2 linked regions of the Homo sapiens genome follow. The protein of the gene in region 1 purifies or fractionates together with the protein of each later gene. This does not show direct contact. Each region holds a gene or a part of one and is shown in the gene's direction. Other genes may lie near its edges.

Region 1 (7,025 bases):
TTAATATTGTTAGGTAGCAGTACTCTCCAAATTGATCTACATATTCAGCAGATTCACTACCAAAATGCCAACTGCCTTTTTTGCAGAAATTGACATCCTAATCCTAAAATTAGGTAAAAGGCACCTAATAGCCAAAACAATCTTGAAAAAGAACAAGGTTGGGAGACCCATACTCCCAATTTCAAGGCCTACTACAAATCTACAAATCTTCGGTAATCAAGACAATGTAGTACTGGCATAAGGATACACATATAGATCAATGGAATAGAATCAATAGTGCAAAAACAAATGTTTACTTTTATGGTCAGTTGATTGTCAACAAGGGTAGCAAGATCATTCAATGGGGAAAGAGTAGTCTTTTCAAACAAACTGTGCTTGGACAACTGGACATCCACACATAAAAGAATGCAACTGGACCCCTACCTCACACCATACACAAAAATTAACTCAAAATGGATCATCCTCAATGTAAGAACTAAGGTATAATATTCAAAGGCAAAAAACAGGAGTAAGTCTTCATCATCTTGAGTTAGACAATGGTGTTTCGGATACATGCCAAGAGCACAAGTGAAAAAAAGAAAAAATAAATAAATTGGACTACCTCAAAATTTGAAACTTTTGTGCTACAAACAATGCTTTTAAGAAAGTGAAAAGACAACTGACAGAGTGGGAGAAAATATTTGCAAGTCATATATCTGATAAGTGGCTTGCATCCAGAATACATAACAAAATCCTACAACCCAATAATAAAAAGACAAACAACACAATTTTAAAATGGGCAAAGGATTTGAATAGACATTTCTCAATGCACACAAATGGCCAATATGCACATGAAAAGATGCTCAACATCGTTAGTCATTAGGGAAATGCAAATCAAAACCACAATGAGATGCTACTTCACACTCAGTAGGAGAGCTGTAATAAAAAAGACAGACAATAACAAGTTGTTAGCAAGAATATGGAGGAATTAAAACCCTCATGGCTTGTTGGTGGCAATGTAAAATGATGCAGCTGCTTTGGAAAACAATTTGGCAATTCCTCAAAATGTTAAATATAGAGTTGCCATATGGCCTAACAATCCACTCTTACGTATCTACCCAAGGGAAATAAAAACATACAGTCACACAAAAACTTTTACATGAATGTTCATAGCAGCATTGTTCATAATAGACAAAAGGTAGAAATAACTCAAATGTCCATTAGTGGATGAACAGACAAGCAAAATGGGGCATGTCCATGCAATGAAAAAATCACTGAGCAATTTAAAATAAGTGAAGTCCTGATACATGCTACAACAGGAACAAACCTTGAAAAGTTGCTGAGTGAAAGAAGCCAGACATGAAAGACCATAAATTGTAGGATTTCACTTGTATAAAATGTACGGAAAAGACAAATCTATACAGACAGAAGGTGAACGAGTGGTTACACAGGGCTGGAGGAGCAGGGATTAGAGGGAAATTGAGAGTGGCTAATAAAGGGTGAGGAGCTTCTTTTTGAAATGACGGAAATGATTTTAAATTGATTGTGGTGGTGGTTGCACAGCTCTGTGAATATACTAAAATCATTGAATTGAACATATTAAAAAGGTAACTTGTATGCTATGTGAATTACATCACAATAAAGCTATTTTTAAAAACGAATGACTTAGATCTATATGTATCCATCTAGATAAATCTCAAAAAAAAATGTAGAGGGAGAAAAACATGCTGAAAAAGGAAACGTACAGTATGACACCATTTATGTGAAATTTTAAAACAAAAGCCAATAGTATATATTGTTTAGGGAACTATACATTTTTAGTAAGACATAAAAACTTGGATGGAAAGGGTAGACTCAACCGCAGGATTTTCCCTCTCTGCCCTATAAATAATCTTTTTTAAAATTGATGGCTTAAACTTCCATTGTTTATGTTTAGCATATAAGGAAATATATATTTTTATATTCATAACCCCTTTCTTAGACAAAAGGTAAAATGCTATATATACTTTAGTGTACAGGACTTTTTTTTAACTTAATATATTCTAGAGGTCACTCCAGAGGAGTTGATAGAGCTGTTCCAGTGAGACTGCTTTATTAAGCTTGTTGGGGTTTATGTCTAAAAGGAGGAGGGCCAGAGATGGATGACTACATGGAGACGCTGAAGGATGAAGAGGACGCCTTGTGGGAGAATGTGGAGTGTAACCGGCACATGCTCAGCCGCTATATCAACCCTGCCAAGCTCACGCCCTACCTGCGTCAGTGTAAGGTCATTGATGAGCAGGATGAAGATGAAGTGCTTAATGCCCCTATGCTGCCATCCAAGATCAACCGAGCAGGTAACCTTAGGACCTCTTTGCGGGAGAGGGAGGGCTACCGCACACGGCAACTTCCAGACATACCCTTTGGTAGCTGTACCAAAATGAAGTTGCTCTAGGTCAGGGATTTTTAAACTGGGGTCCGCAGTCCATCACCTACTCATTTGTGTATAGAACTCAAGCTGTCTGTGTATGGAACTCAAAGGATCCATAAACTGGGAGGGGGGAAGAAATGCCATCTTTATTTTACCAACCTCAACTGCAATTCAGCATTGCCCTCAATTGCAAATGTCAGGAAGCCACAAATTACAGGAGTGATTAGTAATTCTTGTGACTTAGGCAACAATGAAAATTACAGATCTCTTCCTATCACTACAGTTACTGCAAATCTCTCAAAATGCCACTTACACTCATCTCTCTTTCAAAATTACAGTACTTATTAGACCTGCCGAGAGGTCTTGTTATTTAATGCATTAATAAAGAAGTATGTTACTGAAACACAAATTTATTTAATATTTGATAACTGGATTTTATTATAATTGGTTTCTTTTGTAATCTGATGTACTTTATCTGTTTAAAAATATTCCGAGAAGGGTTCCACAAGCTTTTCTAGCCTGACTTCTGGAGGGGGGGTTTATCATATTCAGTAAAGGTAATAAATATGGTTTGTGAAGCTTGTTTTAATTTTACATTATGTACATGTGTATACACATGTACTTGTAGAGTTATCTTTGTCTATGGTCACTAGACCACAATGTTAAATGTTTTTCTTTCTATGGATCAGTTTAGAAGGTTTGATAATCACTGTCCCCCAGCGTGGCTGGTGGTAAGTGGCTCATCAGCTGCGACTCTCTGGCATCCATGGCAGACATCAGTAATCAGCATGCTTTCCCACTGAGCTTGGATGTAACTTTGGAATGTTTCTCGAAACAGTACTGCAGGCGGCTTCACCAAACAATCGGGGTTGACATACCATCAAATTTATTTCTTCTGTCCGTCCTAGGGAAAAGGTCGAGTTTTAAGACCTACCTTTCTTCTTCTATATCTCAGAAGAATATCTGAAAATAAAATGTTTAAGGAAGGGCCCAGAAATGTAAGCAATAAGTGGAATCAATAGTATAGAAACTGGGACCTGCTGGGGAAATTACATTTAAGGTGTTTCCAGGTTGTGTAATAATCCCAAAGAAAAACCTAGAACTATCCCTACTTCCTATGATTTTTCCTAGCCTCTCACCCAAAGATTTGTCTTCCTGCTCTCAATCCCAGAGAACCATATATTATTCCATAATTTTTATCGTGCTTCCAACCTCCTTCAGTCATAGAAGACCTGGTGCCTACGTGGTTCATTTTGGCCCTGGTCAGTTGGGAAACTCTTCAAAACTGGGGCGGCAATTCCATTTATCCTGGTTCTACCAGTTTATTAGAAACAGAAAACTAACGCTCACCAAATCCCTGCGGAGGGCCTGGCACCTTGATTTACGTCATCTGGGCTCCAAGATACAACTCAGAAGTGATAGAATGTGGGGAGACTGTCTTCTTAGAGTTGATTGAAGGACACAAGTCCAGGATGAGACCAGCCACAGAGACTTGCGTTCCATCAGATATGTATTCTCACAGAGTGATCTGGTCTTTCCCCTAGGCCGGCTGTTGGACATTCTACATACCAAGGGGCAAAGGGGCTATGTGGTCTTCTTGGAGAGCCTAGAATTTTATTACCCAGAACTGTACAAACTGGTGACTGGGAAAGAGCCCACTCGGAGATTCTCCACCATTGTGGGTAAGTGCTTTTGCCATTGGGAACATCTGGACTCTAAGAGGAGGGGCGTGTGTGTGTGTGTGTCTGTGTGTGTGTGTGTGTGTGTGTGTGTCCTCAGTAGTGGCATGGTTCTTAAGCTGTGAATCTATGACATATAGAACTGGGGTCTGTCAACCACTTATTTTGCTTGATGATGAAAGGTTAACAGGGGCAAAGGGAAGCAGGAACCAAGAGAAGTGGGTGTTCACGGACCATCCCCCATGAATGGCGCCAGGTGGAACACAAGTTCATTCTACCCCGTAGATCTTGTCCTTGCCTTGCCTGCATTCTTTCTAGTGTCTCATGGGCCAGAGCCCTTGAGCATCTTGCCTTCTTAATCTTCCTTTCTAAACATTCTTGAATCAGTCTTCTCGCCCGCCCCAACACTTCCCACAGTCCAGACTCCCACAACCCCATTAACTCTCCATATCCATTCCCGATCTGTTCCAGTGCTTTCTCCATTCTTCCTCCCCTATTTAAAACCCTTTGGTGGTTTTTCATTGCTTCTTTGTAAAGACCCAGGTCTTGGCCAGGCACAGTGGCTCATGCCTGAAATTCCAACACTTTTGGAGGCTGCAGCCATAGAATTGCTTGAGCCCAGGAGTTCCAGGCTGCAATAAGCTATGATCATGCCCCTGCACTCCAGCCTGGGTAATAGAGCGAGACCCTGTTTTAAAATATAAAAAAAGTCCCAGGTCTTTAATGCAGCCCACAAGGACCCTTCATGATCCAGTCCCTGCTGACACCACCAGCCTCGCCTTTCTCTTCTCTCTCTCTCCTTCGGCCACTTTGGTCTTCGTTCAGTTCCTGAAATATGCCAAGTTCCTCCCTCCTCCCCATATGGCCTTGGCAATGTTGTTCCCCTTTCCTAGAATGCCTTTTCCCACCCGAACTTAACATTTTACCTCAACCATCAGGAGCCTTCTCCAACCCCCTCTGCCCACAAGGCTGGATCTGGGCCCCTGCTACACACTCTCATAGCCCCATCTACCTTTACTTTGTGAAATCCTCACGGTCTGTAATTCTATTTGTGGTATCATTTGATTTTTTTAAATGTGTTTCTCTTATTACACCCTAAGCTCTCCCGGGGCCAAGGCTGTGAGTCTCGCTCACTCTGAATCCCCAGTGCCTCGTGGGCAGAGTGAGTAAAGAGCTTGGCACAACGTTGGTGAGTGAGTGAATGAATGGCACCTGCCCTGCGTCTGGAACCTCCTTTTTCCACTTCCCAGTCCTCAGGCCTGACTGGGTGCCCCCTCTCCACAGTGGAGGAAGGCCACGAGGGCCTCACGCACTTCCTGATGAACGAGGTCATCAAGCTGCAGCAGCAGATGAAGGCCAAGGACCTGCAACGCTGCGAGCTGCTGGCCAGGTTGCGGCAGCTGGAGGATGAGAAGAAGCAGATGACGCTGACGCGCGTGGAGCTGCTAACCTTCCAGGAGCGGTACTACAAGATGAAGGAAGAGCGGGACAGCTACAATGACGAGCTGGTCAAGGTGAAGGACGACAACTACAACTTAGCCATGCGCTACGCACAGCTCAGTGAGGAGAAGAACATGGCGGTCATGAGGAGCCGAGACCTCCAACTCGAGGTGAGGGGTGCCCAAGGGCTACTCCGCCAGGGTGACCCGGGGGAAACAAATGTCACCAGGGCTCAATTCTCCCATAAAGCAGGTGCAGGCACATGCACGTGGTCTGCCGGAGCTTCCTGCCAGCCAGGTGTGGGGGAATGGAGGACACAGGGCCTCTGGGAGTTCTAGGTCCACTATGCACCTGCACGTGTACCCATAGTGCTTAGCGCTACCGGGTAAGCGGCCTACATCCCCTGTGCGCATGGGCAGACATGCGCACAAGGACCGACCCAGTGCGCAGCTTTCCACCACCGGCTCAGTCCCAGATCCACCTTGCACATGCGCATGCAGACCCAGAATGGCTCACTCCGCAAATGAATTAAGGAGATTTACATCTTCTTTTTTCTTTTCTTTTATTTTCCTTTCCTTCTTTTCTTTCTTTCTTTTTCTTTTCTTTTTTTTTTTTTTTTTTTTTTTTTTTTTTGAGACAGGGTCTTCCACTGCCCAGGCTGCAGTGGTGTGATCATGGCTCACTGAAGCCTTGACCTCCTAGACTCAAGTGATCCTCCTGTCTCAGCCTCCAAAGTAGCTGGGACTACAGGTGCCCACCATCACGCCAGGCTATTCTTTCAATTTTTTTGTAGAAAAGGGGTCTCGCTATTTTGCCCAGGCTGATCTGCAACTCCTGGGCTCAAGTGATCTGCCTCCCTTGGCCTTACAAAGTGGTGGGATTACAGGTATGAGCCACTGCACCCGGCCTCGTTCATTCTTTCTGTTTATTGAGTTCCATCGGGTACCAGGCTTTTTGTTTTTGGGTTTTTTGGAGGAGTTTTTTGGACAGAGTCTCACTCTGTCACCCAGGCTGGAGTGCAGTGGTGTGATCACAGCTCACTGTAGCTTTGGCCTTGCAGGCTCAGGTGATCCTCCCACCTTAGCCTCCCAAGTAGCTGGGACTACAGGTACATGCTATGCCAGCTAATTTTTTTCTATTTTTATCCTACCCACCCCCCTTTTTCTATTTTTAGTAAAGACAGGGTTTCACCATGTTGCCCAGGCTGGTCTTGAACTCCTGGGCTCGGGCAATCTGCACACTTGGCCTCCCAAAGTGCTGGGATTACAGGTATAAGCCACCACACCTGGCCCCCAGGCTCTTTTCCAGGGATACATAGCTGAAGACTAAAACCCTTCTGTCGTGGAACTAACATTGTAATCAGAAAACAAATGCATAGATACTTGGTAGAAATGAGTGCTATCAAGAAGAGAAGACAGGGCGTGAGGACAGAACATGAGGATTGCTACTTTAACTAGGGTGTCCAGGAAAGGTCTCTGAGAAGGAGACACATGAAGAGAGATCTGAAGGGATGAAAG
Region 2 (7,707 bases), on another chromosome or scaffold:
TAAAAATGTTCATCCATGTTATGACTTAAAAGCATCTTGTATAACACCAGTGGGGCATAGATGGCTCTGTGGTAGGTATGTATCTACAGAATAAAATCTCAGCTTTTGGCATGACATAATCTGGTCTTCACTGCCTTTTACATCGTGGTCTCTGTCCCTTTCCCATCAGTATCCCCAGCTCTCCTGGAGCAACTGCAGTTCTCCAACCTTGCTGTGATGTTTTCTGGCTCTGTGCTTTTATAGTATGGTATTCTTTTTTTTTTTTTTTTTTTTTTGGAGACGGAGTCTCGCTTTCTCACCCAGGCTGGAGTGCAGTGGCACGACCTCGGCTCACTGCAACCTCCACCTCCCGGGTTCAAGCAATTCTTACTCAGCCTCCCGAGTAGCTGGGATTACAGCTGCCTGCCACCATGCCCGGCTAATTTTTGTATTTTTAGTAGAGACAGGGTTTCACCATGTTGGTCAGGCTGGTCTTGAACTCCTGACCTCGTGATCCACCCGCCTTGGCCTCCCAAAGTGCTGAGATTACAGGTGTGAGCCACTGCGGCCAGCCTACAGTATGGTATTCTTTCTACCCTGTTTCCCAAGCCATCTCCTCTCATCTTTCCACATGGACTGAAGGGCTCTCCCCTGGATTTGTATACTTCTTGCTATCAACAGAGCACTTACTCCTCCTGTTCCTTGTCTTAAGCAGACATCGGGTTTGGTCAACATTGTATTCTGCAAACTCTAAGGGAAAACTGGTGAAGACCGAACTGTGGTGTGGGAATCCCGCCTAGCTCATCTGCCTGGGTTGTCTTTATCTTTGTCTCATGACTAGGCTACTTTACAACTCTGAGATCGCAGTGAACTTACAGAAAACTGATAGTGATGCAAGTGAATCTTGTTTATAATTAAATAAATTGTCAGGTGGAGGTTCAATTGCATTCCCTCCTCCACTGTGGAAGAAGCTAGTTTTGCATCTAGGAAGCAACTTCATTTCAGTGGGCTGACATATTTATCTGGTCTTTGGGTTCTCCTCTGAAGTAATTGTAACACCTTTCTGATTCCCTTGTTAGTTAATGAGTTAAAATCTCTGATATGTGTTCATTGCATATTTGTTGCATCATGATTTAAACTTTCTTGTAGAAACTATTCTTAAGACCGGACGCGGTGGCTCATGCCTGTAATCCCAGCACTTTGGGAGGGCCGACATGGGTGAATCACCTGAGGTCAGGAGTTCAAGAGCAGCCTGGGCAACATGGTGAAACCCGTCTCTACTAAAAATACAAAATATTAGCTGGGCGTGGTGGTGTGCACCTGTAATCCCAGCTACTCAGGAGGCTGAGACAGGAGAATCACTTGAACCTGGGAGGTGGAGGTTGCCGTGAGCCGAGATCGTGCCATTGCACTCCAGCCTGGGCAACAAGAGCATAACTCCGTCTCAAAATAAATAAATTAATCAAATAAAAACTATTCTTTAACAGTATGTATTTGATACAGAGCCTGGTGCCCCAAGAATATGTGTTCATGACGGAATGAATGATTGAGTGAATGAATCAATTTAGACAAGTAGGTGTAGACTTTCCATGGTCAGGATCAAATATTTAGGTCTGGATGATTCATCATGAAGGAAGAGTGTGGAATACTAGCATGATGCCTAGCTACTATTACAAAGTTGAAATCGAAATGAGAAAATTTCCCTAATCCTTTGGAAGATGGTGGCAAGAATGGGCTGCAGGGGATGTGCTGAGCCTGTGTCTGTGGGTCACCTGAGTGGCTCCTACAGAGGCTGAGTCAGAGAGGTCACAAAGTGGGCTGAGCATGGAATAAGGGATGGCAGACAATGAATGCCTTTTTTTTTTTTTTAGACAGAGTCTTGCCCTGTTGCCCACACTGGACTGCAGTGGCACAATCTCAGCTCACTGCAACCTCCGCCCCCTGGGTTCAAGTGATTCTCCTGCCTCAGCCTCCCAAGTAGCTGGGAATACAGGCGCGTGCCACCACGCCTGGCTAATTTTTTTTGGTGTATCTTTAGTAGAGATGGGGTTTCACCATGTTGGCCAGGCTGGTCTTGAACTCCTGACCTCGTGATCTGCCCGCCTCAGCCTCCCAAAGTGTTGGGATTACAGGTGTGAGCCACCACGCTCGGCCATGAATGCCATTTAAGCCACATAACTCCTGCTTCCTTTCCCTCCATTGTATACAGATCCAAGGACCAGCAGGTTTTCTCCTGCACTGAGTCTTTTAAACCCTGTCCAACTGTGAAATAATATATCATTCTGGCGTTTTTTTTTTTTTTAGTTGGAGTACCATCTATAGTTAAACTGTATAAAGGAAAAAAATCCTATGAGTCAGTTTCCAGACCTATGAGTGCTTTGAAGATTACATCAATGGAGTTCCATATATTGAAACCACAAGCTTCCTGCCAATTGTCTGGATTTACAAAGATCTATTTCACTTTGAACTAATGAGGAAGAACTCCCAAGGCTATTATCTATAGACATGCATGAACTTTTAAGGGACATTTAAAAGCCAGATCTTTACCCCCAATTTTTCTCCTATCTTTATATAAACATAACGGTTAATATAGAAAAGAAAGCTGAATTACTATTTACATTGTTCCCAAAATTGATGTAGCAGTTTTAAGAGTACTAATATACAATGCACATACTTCTCCCTGACGCTATATAACACTATTAGGTACTATTATTTTCCACTTTTTACAGGTGTGGAAACTGAAGCTCAGAGAGGTTAAGTAGATCACCTAAGTTCCACCACTAGACTAGTAAGTGGCAGCAACATCAAGTTTCCAATTCAGGACTAACTTTAAAGGTCACATTCTACTATACCATTATGCCCATAAGAGAACCACAGGAGTGAAATTATGTCATAGAAATATTAACATTTGATTGAGGAGAGAAAAAGACCAGTCAAAAAAGGTAATGTCAGTTTGGGTAGAGGATGGAGGGTGGCGGGTAGTGACTGGATAGGGTATAAAATTGCTAGGTGGAAAAAAAGGTTGGGAGTAGGGTAAAACGAGGGAGGCAGTCACTTGGGAAGCCAGGGTGGGGGCGTACAACTCGAGGTCAAAACAGTGCCCAGCTGAGCTATATTGGCTAAGAGTAAATAACACTGGCACCCATTTAACTCGTATGCACACGAGAGGTTGCATAAGCAACGCTTTGTACATGGCAGACTTTTCTAAGAAGTCTAAATTTAGAAGACCTCTGTTGAATTTAAATTAAAAGGCAGGATTCCAGTAAAGACTAGAAGATTTTATTTCCATAATTGGCACATGCAGGTAACAGATCCTCAGAAAATATTTGTACAGTAATTGAGGACAAAACAGGAAGGCACCTGAAGCGGTTGGGAAAGGCTTGCCAAGTCAAACTGAGTATGAAACGGCACTTGTATGTGTAAGGGTAATAGCATTTACTGAGTCATCTACGATGTGCCAGTTACCGAGTTAAGTGCTTCACATACATCAACTCCTTTAATTCTGGCAACAACTCTATATAAACTGTATTGTCAGTCCTGTGTTAATAGATGAGGCAGAGAAATTAAGAAACTTATTCAAGCTCCTAACACTTGAATCGAGCAGATCTTTCATGCTCTTAGCCATCTCACTGCAGTCTGAATTCTTAACTTATGCTAGAGTGAAGTTTAATGACTGCTTGTGCTAGAATGTGGTGGAGACTGTATGGCGCACCTACCTCGCCAACATGTATAAGAATATAGGTATCCAAATTACTGGTCAGAAAATCCTGCGGCCTTGGGTGATGAAAAGCTAATGGCAACAGAAATTGGGCCAGGAAGCCTCGTGTAGGGAACTACCTGACTGGTCACATTTCGTAAGTTACTTCCTTTTTGTCCCAAACGAAGCCATAGTTTTCAAAGGGATAATGGCCTTGGATGTTGCTAAGATTGGCAGAGAGAGCTCAGGTGTCGTCCATTCCGGATCATTCCAGGGAAAGGCATCCTCTACAGGGTTGCCTGCTTTGATGACGGAGATTGCGGGCGGCAGTCTGACGCGGTGTAAACCAGATGATTCCTGCTAAAAACAATCATTTCCAAGATCTGATTAGCCCTAAATATGCCACAGCTCAGTTTGCAAAGTAGTAATTGTTTAAAAGTCTAGGCAAAGATTTTGGCCAATTCCAACTCAAGTATCCGGATCTCCAGCACTACTTCCCTCTAGCAATGCCATACACATCTAACCCTAAAACGAGGAAGCGTCCGCTGAGGTTGCCCACTGCAGGATGCTGGTGTGTCGCCGGGCACATGAAAGTCCCTGAGTCAGGGGAGAGCGCTCGCCGGGGACTGCGGGCGGGAGCCGGCGACTGAGAACCGCTTGCCCCGCTCTCTGGCGTGAGTACGCAGGCCTCCTCCCACGGTCTCAGGAAGCCCAGACGCCGCAGGCTTCCCCGCCGTAGAGGAGCTGCCGGGGCGTAATTCCTCCACCGCTTCCTCCTCCAGCTGCACCCACCCGTCCTTTCCTGCTCGGGAGGGCTGGGTTTGAAGCGCGCGCCACGGCCAGCCCGGGACCGCGGGGGAGGGCGAGGGAGGCGCGCAGCCGCACGCACGCAGTAGGCAGCCCCGCCCCGCCCCTCGAGGCCCAAGGTCCCGCCCCTCGAGGCTCCGTGCCCCGCCCCCCGGGTGCCCCGCCCCTTTGCGCGGCTGGCGCGGCCAGCAGGCCAGGCTCCCCTCGGCAAACCTGTCTAATTGGGGCGGGGAGCGGAGCTTCCTCCTCTGAGGGCCGTGCCGCGCTGCCAGATTTGTTCTTCCGCCCCTGCCTCCGCGGCTCGGAGGCGAGCGGAAGGTGCCCCGGGGCCGAGGCCCGTGACGGGGCGGGCGGGAGCCCCGGCAGTCCGGGGTCGCCGGCGAGGGCCATGTCGCTGTTGGGGGACCCGCTACAGGCCCTGCCGCCCTCGGCCGCCCCCACGGGGCCGCTGCTCGCCCCTCCGGCCGGCGCGACCCTCAACCGCCTGCGGGAGCCGCTGCTGCGGAGGCTCAGCGAGCTCCTGGATCAGGCGCCCGAGGGCCGGGGCTGGAGGAGACTGGCGGAGCTGGCGGGGAGTCGCGGGCGCCTCCGCCTCAGGTGAGCTCAGGGCCGCGGCAGGCCGGGCGCGCGGGTCGAGCGGGGTGGGCTGCGGTGGGGAGGTGGGGGCGCTGTCGGTGGGGCTGAGCGCGGCGGGGGCCGCCGGCGTGAGTGAGCGGAGGTGGGGAGGACTTCGGTCATTGAGGCGGAGCGGAACTCAGCAGCTCCCCGGAACGCCTGGGGTTTGAGAGCGGGGCCCAGGGCTCTGGAGGGTGGAGGCAAAAGTGGCCCAGCGGCTGCCTCGCTCCCTGTTCCCACCCCCGCCCCTGGTGAAAGGGAGAAGTCGAGGTTGACCCCGGAGGATAGTGAGAGAAGGAAAGCTGTCAGGGGACCCCTAGGATGGGGCAGTCATCCAGAGGACTTAAAATGCAAAAGAAAGGGATGTGGACACTGCTCTGGGAGACCTAAGGAAGGCTGGGAAGAAGCGCAGGCGAGGTGATGAATGCAGAGGGTGGGGTGCAGGAATTCATGAACATTTTGCAAGGTATTGGGAAAGACTGACGCCGAACTCATCATCTCCCTCCATCAAACCAGGTTACCACGTTCTCTTCTTGACTTCACCATGAACATGAAACTCGAAGTAAAACTATTTTCCTTGTTAGGTTTGGAATGGCTGTATTAGGGTTCCTGAAGTTTTGGTCTCGAGACTCCTTTACCCTCTTAAGAATTATTGAGGACCCCAGAGAGCTCTTATGTGGGTTAGAGATAATACATACATGTAATACATACTGATATTTACCACCTTTGAAATTAAAGCTAAGACATTTAAAAAATATTAATTTATTTAAAAAGAATAACCCATTATATGGTAACAGAAATAATACTTTCGTGGAAAAACAAATTTTCCAAAACAAAAAAGTCTATTAGAGAAGTGGCATTGGTTTTCATTTTGAAGATCTCTTTAATGTCTTGGCTTAATCACAGAGCTGGATTCGTTTATGTGCTTCTGCATTCAGTCTGTCGCACTATTACAGGTCACAGAACGCTGGAAACTGCAGTGTCCACTCCTGAAAGAATGAATGAAAAAGCTAAATAAAGTCTTAATATTGTTATGAAAAATCTTTATGACCTTGTGGACCCCGCGAAAGGGTCTCAGGAACTGCACTAGGGGTTCCCAGACCCCACTTAGAACCATTACTTTATACCATTGTTGTAACTTTGGCCTGCCTTTGAACCCCTTAGCAGTTTTTTGAACTTCTCAAATGACAAAGATTTGTCTTACAGTATAATTATTTGTACACATCTTTATAAATGCCTTAAGAACAAAAACTGTCTCTTAATATTCTGTTATGTATAGAGGTTAGTAAATACTTGATGAGAGGAAAGTCATTCATTCAAAATGGTATTTATTAAGTGCTTATTATTTGCTAGAAATTTTAGAAGATAAAAAACTAACAAATATTCAATTCCTAATCATAAGGGTTTATCCAGGAATGGACTATTATTTGGGGACCTTTACAATAACATATTAAATGCTGTGTTGGGTATGAATGATAATGGATTTTTATCTTTTATTGAGGACATGGTATGTACCACAAAATATACTAAATGTTTACATGCTGCTGCTGCTGCTTCATTCTTCTTTATTCTTCTTATTTTTGCATTATCTTTTTTTTTTCCGAGATGGAGTCTTGCTCTTTCGCCCAGGCTGGAGTGCAGTGGTGTGATCGTGGCTCACTACAACCTCCGCCTCCCAGGTTCAAGCAATTCTCCTGCCTCAGCCTCCTGAGTAGCTGGGATTACAGGCGTGCGCCACTACAGCCCGCTAATTTTTTTGTATTTTTAGTAAAGACGGGGTTTTGCTGTGTTAGCCAGGCTGGTCTTGACCTAAGGTGATCCAGCCGCCTCAGTCTTCCAAAGTACTGGGATTACAGGCATGAGCTACCCTGCCTGGCCACATTATTTTCTTAAACCCTCCTGACAACTCTTGTTTCAGAGTTTGGGATTGAGGCAAAGGATAATAGTGACTTGGGATTATTGCTTGTGCAAAGGAGTAATGATGTGAGGAGGGAATAACTAGCAAGGCCTAGCAGAGAAGTGGCATAATTTTTTTCTGTTCTAGGAAAAACACGTTGGGCTTTTGGATATGCAAAAAAAACAAATACAAAATATTGTTATGCTAGGTACATAAAATTTTGAATTTCTGGACTTACCATAATGTAAAAAATTGTCTTTGGGGGCAGATCTCCAGAGTATTACGGTGCTAACGAGTACTCTGGTTAGGGAAGGTTCTGGGCTTCCTGAAGAAAGCCAGGTATGGAGGACTCCTACATGGCCATGAAGGAGAGAGAAGAAAGTCAGCAAGGCCCTGCCAGGGAAGAAGCGTGGCTGCTGGAATCCAAAAGCAGCGGATACTTGATGTTGGGTGTTGTGTTTTCCTCGCCTGCCTTCAGTCAGTTTTTGTTAAAGGCTACAAAATGGTCTTAGCTTTGTTTGGGGGAACTAAAGGAAATATTTGAGGCCACTTTTCTGTGGAGTCACACAGAGAGAAGGGGACAGTTGCCTAACAAGAGGTGGCAAGCACAAAGGGCATGCAGTTGTGGAATCTGAGAATTTGGGGTGGGAAGTCTGATGAGAGGCAGATGAGTTTCACCTGTCTTTCAAGATGGTAAAGATTAGTTTTGAGG

The links. The genes of interacting proteins can lie anywhere in the genome.
Region 2: the proteins of CARD11 (region 1) and MALT1 purify together in Homo sapiens (affinity purification with western blotting; 6 studies listed by BioGRID and IntAct, with this or other methods). This does not show direct contact.

What each region holds. Positions count from the first base shown.
Region 1 is NC_000007.14:2,942,865-2,949,889, reverse strand, and holds part of CARD11 (caspase recruitment domain-containing protein 11), read left to right. Parts: intron 1-2,102; coding exon 2,103-2,315; intron 2,316-2,802; exon of another isoform or gene 2,803-3,293; intron 3,294-3,933; coding exon 3,934-4,071; intron 4,072-5,352; coding exon 5,353-5,678; exon of another isoform or gene 5,679-5,855; intron 5,856-7,025. UniProt on the Homo sapiens protein: Adapter protein that plays a key role in adaptive immune response by transducing the activation of NF-kappa-B downstream of T-cell receptor (TCR) and B-cell receptor (BCR) engagement.
Region 2 is NC_000018.10:58,666,773-58,674,479, forward strand, and holds the start of MALT1 (mucosa-associated lymphoid tissue lymphoma translocation protein 1), read left to right. Parts: upstream 1-4,692; 5' UTR 4,693-4,871; coding exon 4,872-5,080; exon of another isoform or gene 5,081-5,101; intron 5,102-5,840; exon of another isoform or gene 5,841-6,087; intron 6,088-7,707. UniProt on the Homo sapiens protein: Protease that enhances BCL10-induced activation: acts via formation of CBM complexes that channel adaptive and innate immune signaling downstream of CARD domain-containing proteins (CARD9, CARD11 and CARD14) to activate NF-kappa-B and MAP kinase p38 pathways which stimulate expression of genes encoding pro-inflammatory cytokines and chemokines.